Linked DNA regions of Homo sapiens: region 2 is linked to region 1. Evidence: fine-mapped expression QTL. A gene starts in region 1. The other region holds a variant in brackets. All regions are shown on one strand. Distances are between the middles of the regions.

Region 1 (5,390 bases):
TATTTTGCTCTTGTTCTAGGTGTTTCCTGTCCAACATCAATTGCTTCTGATTATGACAACACCACATGCTATAATTTTAGGTGAATAGAAAGGGGTAGGCACTTTCACCAAATTTCTTCTACTGAAACCTCTCTTTTGAAGTTAAGAGCCATGAATAGCAATTTAGGGAAGAAAAAAAAAAAACTCTGGTTAACTCATCTCTCTGAGAAGAGTAGAGAACAGGTATCACATGCTATAATTTTAGGTGATCAGAAACGCGTAGGAGCTTTCACCAAACTTCTACTGAAACCTCTCATTAGAACTTGAGACCCATGAACAACATTTTAGGAAAAACTTAAGAGCCATGAATAGCAATTGAGTTAACCAGGTTAACTAAATTGGATTTTAGTTAACCTGGTTAACTCTTATATTTCTGAGAAGAGTGGAGGACAGTTGCTTCAGAAGCATTGATGACTCTTCACCCTATTTCCCTTCTTAATGTCCCAAAATATCAAAAATCACATGGTTTGTCAGAAATTTCTTGAATTTGCAGTTGCTGTTTTGCCTGTAGGTCAATTTCAGATGAGTATTGTAACCATCAAATTCTATACAGAATAAATCTCCTTTGCAAATAACACCCCGATGTTTATGAAGATGAAGACATGGACTATTTAGAGGCAGAATTACTGTTTCTAACAGACAGTCTAATTTTTCCATTACATCACTCCCACTACAATTAACCAGATATACACTTACATTACCATAATATTTGTGCTGGATCTGAAAAAAAATTGATGTAATTTTTTACTTTTGGCATTGATGAATGCTTCACCATGAAAATATGTAAAGTATCCTATGCCCTTATCAATAAGCAATATCCTTGGTTAATGATTAAAAAATGTATATTCTGAATGGAAGTTCATTGTAAAAAACAGTTCTGTGCTTTCAACAACTGAAAAACTGCTGCTTTTTGTTTGATTCTTATTTTCTCAGTCTCACCTCTCCAACTTCATAAGGGAAAATGCACTTTTAGATTTTCTATTAATTTATTTCTTTAACTTCCCACTCCACTGACTTATTTTTGTTTCTAAACGGAATCTAATTGTACCCACACATACCCATTAACATTAACATAAAGAAAAACCTATTTCCTTCTCTAGAGATCTTAGGGTCTGCTCTGAGGCAATCAAGAGAACTGAGTGACCTGTATATTAGTTGGGTCTTCATAGCTCTTATCGGTTAAGATATTGACTTTCTCCATGATCCACTTCCCCAGATCATCTGCATCTCGCTTGAAAACTTGTAAGTGATAGGAATCCTCAAGCTTCTGACCCCTCTCAGCGACCCGCTCCTTGAAACTTTGATACCGAGTCAACACTTCCTGACGCCTCTCCTGGATCTCTTCTGCTGTTTCCAAAACCTTTGGCCCACTGCTCTCCACAACCTGCAAGTTAAAAAGATTCTGTTACTTGCTAGTTCTCAAATATTTAACATGTTGCCCCGCTTATATGTGTCAAGGTGTTTACTCATGTTGGACCTATATTCAGATATCCTGAAGTTTCTAGGGACTATTGTCAGAAGAGCTGTAGTATATTTACGTAATTTTTAACCAGACATAGCTTCTGTTTAGGTTAAAAATTCTTGATTATCCAGAAGACTCTCCTCACTTTTTACATAAATTTGTGCTAGCATTTAAGTTCTATAGATATAATTATATTGGACTGATCATGGAGCAAGTTTAAATCAGCAAAATCACATAATTTCAGATAGATAAAAAGAAATATAATGTTATTGCTTTCAAGGGCTAAAAAGGTGTTGAGAAGTGCTTATTATTTTTAACTTAATTTAATAAATAATTAAGAATGGCTTGCAATTAATTTAGTTAATGATATATGCAACAGTTTGAAAATTTTGTTTCCTTCATACTTAAAAATAAATCTCATATATTTACTCTTTACTTGCTTTACTCACAAACACTATAAATCAAAAGTTCAGCTATCTTCTGCCCAATTGTCACAAATTTCAAATTATTAGCATGTCTGCAATTTATTTTTGAAATATAAAAACTTTTACTCTAAAACAATATATAAGTATCCTTTTCCCAGAGTGGGAGCCAACCTGTTTGTGACAATATCCAGCAAAATCACCATAGGGTTCACCTTCATTCTTCTGGATATGGATACCATTTTCCCTAGCTTACCTCAGCCAAAATGTTTAATATAGAGTTTAAATTTTAATCTCCCATTATTCCTCCTAAGTATAATTGCTACTCTGTGAATTGCCATTACTGGCATGGCTATAGAATTAGATCATTACATGGAGACTCACGTTGTTACTAGGTGTTATTTAGCTTCAATCTCCCTACTTATTCTCTCTGGGAACCGACTTAAGTCATTACTGGGTCTTGGTGCTGCACAGACATAAGCTCAAGGTTATTGTTCACAAAAAATAGTTAAAAGTAAAATTATCTATTTGTTAAAAGCCAAATAATTATTAATGTTCCTGGGAAAGATAGTATAGAAAGTTTAAAGGAAACATCTTTCCTAATAATATTAATGACAAATTGCATGGAAGAGAAATATGTACTTACGGTTTCCTTTGGAAATTGCTCCATTTTTCCTAAAGGTTTAGAACCTGGCAAGATAAAATGTGTCAGAGAGAGAGAGAGAGAGAAATAATTCAAATGGAACTGTCCAGTCGAATTCAAATAGAAATATAGAAACGTTAAGTATGTGGGGGAAAAAAAAAAACCTCTTGCTTGGTCCTAGAATCCCATCAGCCATACACAATCGACATTATCTTTAGAAGACATACTCAGCTGAGGCAACTGCTAAGTTTTACAGATACTGGGTGACTCAGCAGTTTTGGGAGGCTCTGGCTTTCAAAGTTACTCAATAAGACTTAAAAAATGAAAGTAAGGTTTTTGGATGAAAAATTAGAAAAAAAACCCCATATATTTATAGGAAATACAGCTCAACAACTTCATCCAACTCAACTGCAGATTTTTCACAGTCTTTAAGTCAACGAATTATCCTGGCTTTTTCTAGAGAGTCTTTCACAAAATAAGATTTTATTCCTAACCTCAACAATTTGGTCTTTAAAAATCTGATTTAGTTGTACTCTTAATCATTTAAATGGAAGGAACAAAAAAAGTTATATGATGTGTTCATTAATATTTTGTAAAACAAAAATTAGGATACCTTATTTGACAAACCAATGATGTCACAAAAAAGTTGAAAATATGGCTGACTTCTGATATATATGGTATAAATCATCCTACTGTATGTATTAATTTTAATGGAGAACAAAAAGAGGTAGACTTTTTCCATAGGCATAGTTATTTTAGACTAACTTACAAAAATGAAACAAACAAGCAAAAAGAAAATAGTGGGATGCTCTTAGACCTTTCTACAAGCCAGTGGGGCTATCCATGCCAAACTTCATTCCAGTGTAAATGCAGCTTGAATAATCTAACTTCCATGATCTACAAGAGAAGATTTTGATTCTACATTTGTGGTTTCCCCTGTTCTTGGATCTCACATAGAAAAACTGAGAGTCCTTTACATTCTCTTCTTGAAAGTCTGGATTACTTTACTTTTCCATATAGTTTCATTATATTCAAGTCAAATTTAGTAGTAAAGGCAGGAACATAATTTTAGAGACTGCACTATAACACATGCACTGAGGAATATTTGTCTGAAGTTGGGATAAGGAGAGGAAATTATTTTATCTTTAAGAGAAAAGAATCAACATCTATGAAATATTTATATATTAACATGATCAATTTACATTAATTTCTAATCTTTAAAAATTCTGTGAGGCAGGTATTATCATACCCGTCTTTATGTGAGAAAACAGTCCCTAAAAAACAAAGTTTCATTCTATGGTGATTTGGTTTGAAAGTATTTAAATAGTCAAATCCATATCAATATGATTATCATGGCACTCTGCTCCTTATTTTTTTAGTCAATCTTCTCTTAGTCCATCAACATTATTTGTTCTGTTTCCCTGTTCCAGAATCATCTTAGCAAGAATGCCAAACATGTGATAACCTTGTGACCAAAGAAATAGTATGGCCCATTGTGAATAGTGCCACAATATACATATGTGTGCATGTGTTTTTATAGTAGAATGATTTATAATCCTTTGGGTATATAGCCAGTAATGGGATTGCTGGGTCAAATGGTATTTATGGTTCTAGATCCTTGAGGAATTGCCACACTGTCTTCCACAATGGTTGAACTAACTTACACTCCCACCAACTGTGTAAAAGCATTCCTATTTCTCCACATTGTCTCCAGCATCTGCTGTTTCCTGACTTTTTAATGATCGCCATTCTAACTGGCATGAGATGGTATCTCATTGTGGTTTTGATTTGCATTTCTCTAATGACCAGTTATGATGAGCTTTTTTTCATATGTTTGCTGACTGCATAAATATCTTCTTTTGAGAAGTGTCTATTCATATCCTTTGCTCACTTTTTGATGGGGTCATTTGTTTTTTTCCTGTAAATTTGTTTAAGTTCCTTGTAGATTCTGGATATTAGCCCTTTGGAACCAACCTGAATGCCTATCAGTGAAAGACTGGATAAAGAAAATGTGGTACCTATACACTATGGAATACTATGCAGCCATAAAAAAGGATGAGTTCATGTCCTTTGCAGGGATATGGATGAAGCTGAAAACCATCATTCTCCACAAACTATCACAAGGACAGAAAACCAAACACCACATGTTTTCACTCATAAGTGGGAGTTGAACAATGAGAACACATGGACACAGGGAGGGAAACATCACACCCTGAAGCCTGTTGCGGGGGTGGTGGGATAGGGGAGGGATAGCATTAGGAGAAATACCTAATGTAGATGACGGGTTGATGGGTGCAGCAAACCACCATGGCATGTGTATACCTATGTAACAAACCTGCATGTTCTTCATATGTGTCCTAGAACTAAAGTAAAATCATCACAATAAAAAGAAAGTAAAAATGCTTACTAATTCTATAATGTTTATTTTAAAAAAAAAGAAATAGCATGGCCCAATCAGCAGAACTGATCATAAGGAAATAAAAGTGTCTTTTCAACATATGTGTTGGAAAAATTGCATATTCACATAAAAAAATGAAATTGGACCCTTATGTTATGTACAAAAATCAACTCAAATGGGATTAAAGACTTAAATTACAACCTGAAACTGTAAAACTCCTGGAAAAAAAAAAACACAAGGAAAAAGCTTTATGACTTTTATCATATATAATAAGAATTATATATTTAGTATTTTATACAGTTTTAAAAGGATGGGGATAATTTGGAGGGCTGTTGTATCTGGCCATGGTTATCACCTCAGGGAGGGTTTGTACTTTACATAGTAGTTTAATCAGCACTGAACAGCTTGCCTCAGCTGCTGCTCAGG
Region 2 (5,390 bases), 32 kb before region 1:
GCTGCAGTTAGGGTAACTAGTTTTCTCTGCATTTCCCTTCCAATTATTAGCAACTACAATACCTAGAGGGAGATCTCAGCCACAGAGTTGCCAATAGCTTTGGGGAGAATATTTAACAAGTGTGAAATAAATTAAAAGATCATGTAGAATATGCTGAGGGATAAAAGCAAACAATGGCAACCTTCAAGAGAAGGTTCCTCTTTCTCACCTTTTGGAACTCATCAAACTTTTTCTGCAGCTCCCAAACATCATCTAGTTCCACTCCAGTGTTTTCTGCCTTTTTCTCTTGAATCCATTCCAGCATGTCTCCTGCCTCATAGGCCAATAAAAATTCATTATAACGTTGCAATAGACGACGTCTGCGTTCTTCTGCCCGATCCAAGAGGGAGCGGTATCTGGATGGAGAATTGGGAAAAGTGGAATAAAAGAAGGAGAAAATACAGAAGAGTAGAGGCTGAGTGACAAACATAGAGAAAGAAGGAACAAAAATGAAAGGGAAAACAAATCAAAAGCAAAAGAATAGTAGAAGAGAGGAGGAAATAAACTTAGAAGGAAAACAGCCTTGGGGGCAAAAAGATAAACACATAGGATTGCATTTAAAAATAGTAAAAATGCCAGTGACCCAATAGTATGACTGGCAACATTCCTTTCCCATTTCATAAAAGTGACATTTTTACATGGTAACTGACAATTGGATATGAAAAGCCTGGCATAGTAAACAAAGTTCATATAGATGTCAGGAGACTTTAATAACCTTGAAAGAATGTGGGGCAGGGAATCAGAAGAGCTCTGTGAAGTGTATGACCTCAGGAAATTGATGGAATGATTCTGGGGTTGCCTTTCCTCAAAAAGAAACCGAAACATTTAAAAGATTCTAGGTTTACTTTCGATTCTTAAAATCTTCAGATTTTCTGTGGCATCTCAAATCTAACAGATGCAGGGTCATGAGAAGAAATGCCTTTGGCGAAAAATGTCTGACCAAATACTGTTCAGTTCTCCAGGCTCCAGAACTTACTGGTTCTCAATCTGCTCCTGGCGCTGGGTGATGTTTCCTGGCTCTTCTCGTCGCCGCTGTGGGAGCATCGGGAACTCATCGTGGGCCAGTCTTCTGACATAGACAGCTGGGACAATGCCCTGATGATCAGCAGCTTCCACCTTCCACCAGTCCTGAAGGGAGAGCAGATCCCCACTCCGTCATTAATTCTTGGAAAAGCAACAAACGGGAGAGACTTCAACACTAAGTCTCTTGGCCCAGGCACAGGTTAATGGCAAAGATAAGCTAACCATGTCTAATGAGTGGCACATAATTTTCATATATGACCAAGAAATGAAATGAAGAATTGCATAGACAAGCCCCTGAAATCAAGTAATCTGATACCTAATGTTAGACCCTTAACTTTGGAGAGATTTTCAAACACCCAAGACAGCTCTTTTAATGATGGGGCACTTTGTTCATGAGGAATTTACAAAAAACACATGGAGCCAGGCTCTAGCTGGATTTCTTGGCAGTGGAGCGTCTGTGTAAGAGGATATTGCACAAAAATTCTTCTCTTCTATTCTTCTTGCAGAGGTCTGAAAAATGTGAATTGCTCTGACATTCATATACCTGAGTGTTACTTTATTTTTTATTTTTGAACTGTTGCCACATCTACCAAAACCCTGAGGCTAATTTCCTCAAAAAATAATGAAGAGGCCTAGACAAAGAAAAAATGGACTGGCACACATTATTTGATAATGAAACATCTGCCGCTCCAAACATTTACTTGTCTTTGGAATAACTATAGCCCAAACTATTTTCTTTTCTTCTTAAGAATTTTTGTAGATTAATTAGGTATCAGAGTATAAAAAATTACTTCAGTTTTTATGAAAAATATATTTAAAAATCTCAACCAATATTTTATCACTGTTCTTCCAGGCACAAGATCTAAAGAAAATCAAGTTGACAAAAGACTCATCTTTTGGTAGGCTCCTTCTAACCCCAGACATTGTTATTTTATCACTAGAAATACTGGCACAGAAGAGGAACAAGCAAAGAGGAAGAAAGAAAGAGACAGCTTAGCCCTTTAAATATATTATAGAATTTCCACTCATACTTTCTATATCTTTGGGCTAATTATATAACTTCAATTCTTTATGATTTTAACTGCAACATTGGGATTATAATTCCAAAAGATATGTGTAGGATCCTGCAAAATATCTACAGGAAAAATACTACCTAATCAGTTATAGTTATTCAAGAAATAAAATAATAAAATAAATGTTAGATGGTAAAAATATGAATATCTGGCAGGATTGGGAGAGATGGTTCTGAAAGAGCCACTTTTTGATGGAAAGATTAGAAGGAAAAGTCACCTTATTGATGGAACTGAGCAGCGTTAAGACATCACCTTTCTTCATGGTGACTTCTCGGGGGCTGCGGGCCTGGAAGTCATATAAAGCCATGACCCTTTGTTCTCCAGCAACTCCCTCCACTGGTGCAGCCTGTTGTTGCTGAATAAAAACAGGAAGCAGGTGTCAGTCACGCACTGGAAATATCTCCCTGTACAGCTTACCAGGGGTGAGTAGTCCTTTAGGCTTCCCAGGAGAAAAGAGCCTCTGGCTGGAACCTCTTACGTGGCTGCAGAGATTAAAGTATGTGGTCTTCAGAGAGACTGCTCCATTCTGACACTTATCGGGGACAGGCAGGTTGGGAACTATAAACCCAAAGCAAGGAAGGAAATACATAATTTG[T/C]CAGAAACGTATTAAATGCTCTAAGCCATCAGTTCTTAAAATGGGAGGAGTACATTTTAAGAAGTGTACTCCCTTAAGAAGGTCCAACAGGATTATACACATCAACATTTCAAAAAATTGTTTGAGAAAGTGAAAAGACCCACTCTCTGTCGTCACCTTTCCCTGTACCTCCAGTGATAATTCTTCCCACTCCTTCTGGCCTTTAAGTTACTATGTCAGGAGCTCCGGACCTTCTATTTGAGATATGAGTGATCAATAGCACAGGAAAGGCCACAGAATTTTAAAAACTGAGAACATTAACTGAGATCATTAAAAGTATCTTGTGTCTCAGTTTAGTAAGCAGCCTGCATTCTAAGGTAGAATTTTCTCTGATTTTTACTTTCTGCCAATTTCATGTCTCTGAGAAATCAAGCAAAACATAACCCCTCTTCCTAAGGAATGACCCACCCCTTCCTCAGGTTGGAGTTGAATATGCACCTCCACCGACAGAGCCCTCTAATTTCATCTCCTTTAGGTAACATGTTTCCTCATACCACACAATATATAAATCCTTCTGTTCTTGTTTAGGCACCCACTGTGCAGAGCCTGGTGAAGGCACAGTATAGGAGGTCTGTAAATATACACTGATTTGACAGACTGAGTCTACGTCTTTTGTTTACTCTGAATGTGTGGATTAACAACCTCTCATTAGAAAGAATTCCTTGAAGGTAAGAAGTGTGTCTCTTTTTTTCTACCACTACATATAGTAGACATTGTTATAACATTTATTTGATTCCAGTTCAATTAATCTTCATGACACCCAGTTTTGCCCTGTACCTGAGCCATTCTCATATTCTCAACCAATTGCATCTTCCATTCTCACATTCTTAACCAATTGCATTTTCCACAAAACTTGATTGTTTTGTGCCTCAGTGCATTTGCTCTCATGGTTTATTGACTAGAAAAACGCTTATCCTCTTTCTCTGCACAGTAAACTACCCATCTGTCTTTCCTTAATAATTCAGATCAGGCGGTTTCCCTTAGCTTACAAAAATTTTCCTGTTTTCCAGTACTGTTATTTCAAGAGAACACAAGAGGCCTTTCTTTGAGACTCTTTGTCCTGTTCATACATCTATTATATGCACTTACTGTTAAACATCTGGCCTCCTAATAGACTGTAATTTTCCTGCAAATCAGGATTTTTTATTCATACTTACATATAGTAGACATTTAATAAGTTTTGGCATTAAAAATTAAGAAACAAAAGAAGGGAGTAAAGAAGAAAGATAAGAAGGAGAGACATAAATGAAGAAAAGTAAGAAAGAAAGAAGGGTAGAAATATAAAAGGAAGGAAAGAGGAAAGCCAAAAATACATCAATGAAGACATGATACCATTTATCAAAAACCTCTTTTGGACAAAGTCTCCTTTGGACTAAATTGTGGATGCTACAGTTCCTGCATACAAGGGTCATAGAACTTAGTGTTTTCTTTGCCATTGTTTTTGGGGTTGTAGAAAGTAAAAAATCAGCAATAAAGACAATTTCTTTTTCTTTGTGGTGGGAAGTGTGAATCCTGTCATCGCTAAGTTAGTCTTACCTGGCAGGCGTTTGCCTGATTCCGCAGAGCTTTCATACTGTCTCCAAATGAATTGAGATCTAATAGAAAGGCCTCATGCTTCTTTAGAAGAGCCTGCATTTATTGATGGAAGATCATCAGAATGAATATAGGAGGAACACTATTATTTCAACTACTATTATTTTGGGTTATGCTATTTGTCTTAAATCCTGGTAAAAGCTGCTTTCCATCTATCATAAAGTTATTTTTAACCCTAAATTTGCAAGCATGAAGGAAATAGGAATTAATAAATTATAATTTCAATATGTTTACTAAAATCAAAATTAACTCAAACTTGCAAAAGTATTTTTATCAACACAGATTATAGCTGAAAAGAGGATGCTGTTGATACTGTTACTTTATAGGATAAACATTAGTGTAACTTAAAATATGCATACCAATAATTTCTAGTTCCAAAGGTTTGTGAAATACTATACCAGCTTCCTATGGGACAATGTGCAAAACAAATAAATGGATAAAAAGTGTGATTATAACCTTTGTGGTTCTTCTTGCCCCAACATATCTGTCCAATTTTATTTTAATCAAGTAATTAAGGTGTCTCTATCTTAAAACCATGATTAATTTATAAATGCTCAAGGTTACTCTGGAAAGTTTAGGATCGGATTATGACTATGACTCTGATCACACTTTTTTGATTTAGATAATCTCTAAAGAGTATATGAATCTCCATGGGATGAGAAAAATGTAGCATATCTTTTGGGATTCCTGTCAACTCTGAGGGAGTCTCAGCAGATGAAGGCCAACGGCGACCACTCTGGAAACCCCAAATAATCTGGCAGAATCTGTAGCTGTCCCACAACCTAAGCAAACCCTAAATTGATAATTTGGTTGCGTTTGTTGAGGATTCACAATGTTAAACCCACCCCCACCTTACCCCAGCTGCTTCTTCATCAGCACCATAGTTAGTATTATCTACAATAGGTTCCTTCTCTCTGATCCATGTTTCTGCTTCATGCAGGTCAGCCAGGTACTGCTGGAACTGGACATTGGCTTCAAGATCATTTTGTCGCCTAGCAGCTCGAGCACGGAGAGACTCCATATTCTGG

The links.
Region 2: its variant is fine-mapped to the expression of SPTA1 in subcutaneous fat (GTEx, PIP above 0.99). The same link has a PIP of 0.9 or more in breast.

What each region holds. Positions count from the first base shown.
Region 1 is chr1:158,683,925-158,689,314 of GRCh38, forward strand. SPTA1 (spectrin alpha, erythrocytic 1) reads right to left here and starts at 2,791. Exons shown (of 52, transcript NM_003126.4): 1 at 2,570-2,791; 2 at 1,184-1,423. The coding sequence starts at 2,593. RefSeq lists a silencer at 4,638-4,852 and a cis regulatory region at 5,212-5,390.
Region 2 is chr1:158,652,259-158,657,648 of GRCh38, forward strand. SPTA1 (spectrin alpha, erythrocytic 1) reads right to left here. Exons shown (of 52, transcript NM_003126.4): 19 at 5,219-5,390; 20 at 4,306-4,398; 21 at 2,353-2,490; 22 at 1,016-1,167; 23 at 209-395. Among named protein-coding and RNA genes, the nearest start is that of SPTA1, 32 kb to the right of the region's middle. The variant T/C (reference allele first, on the strand shown) is at 2,731.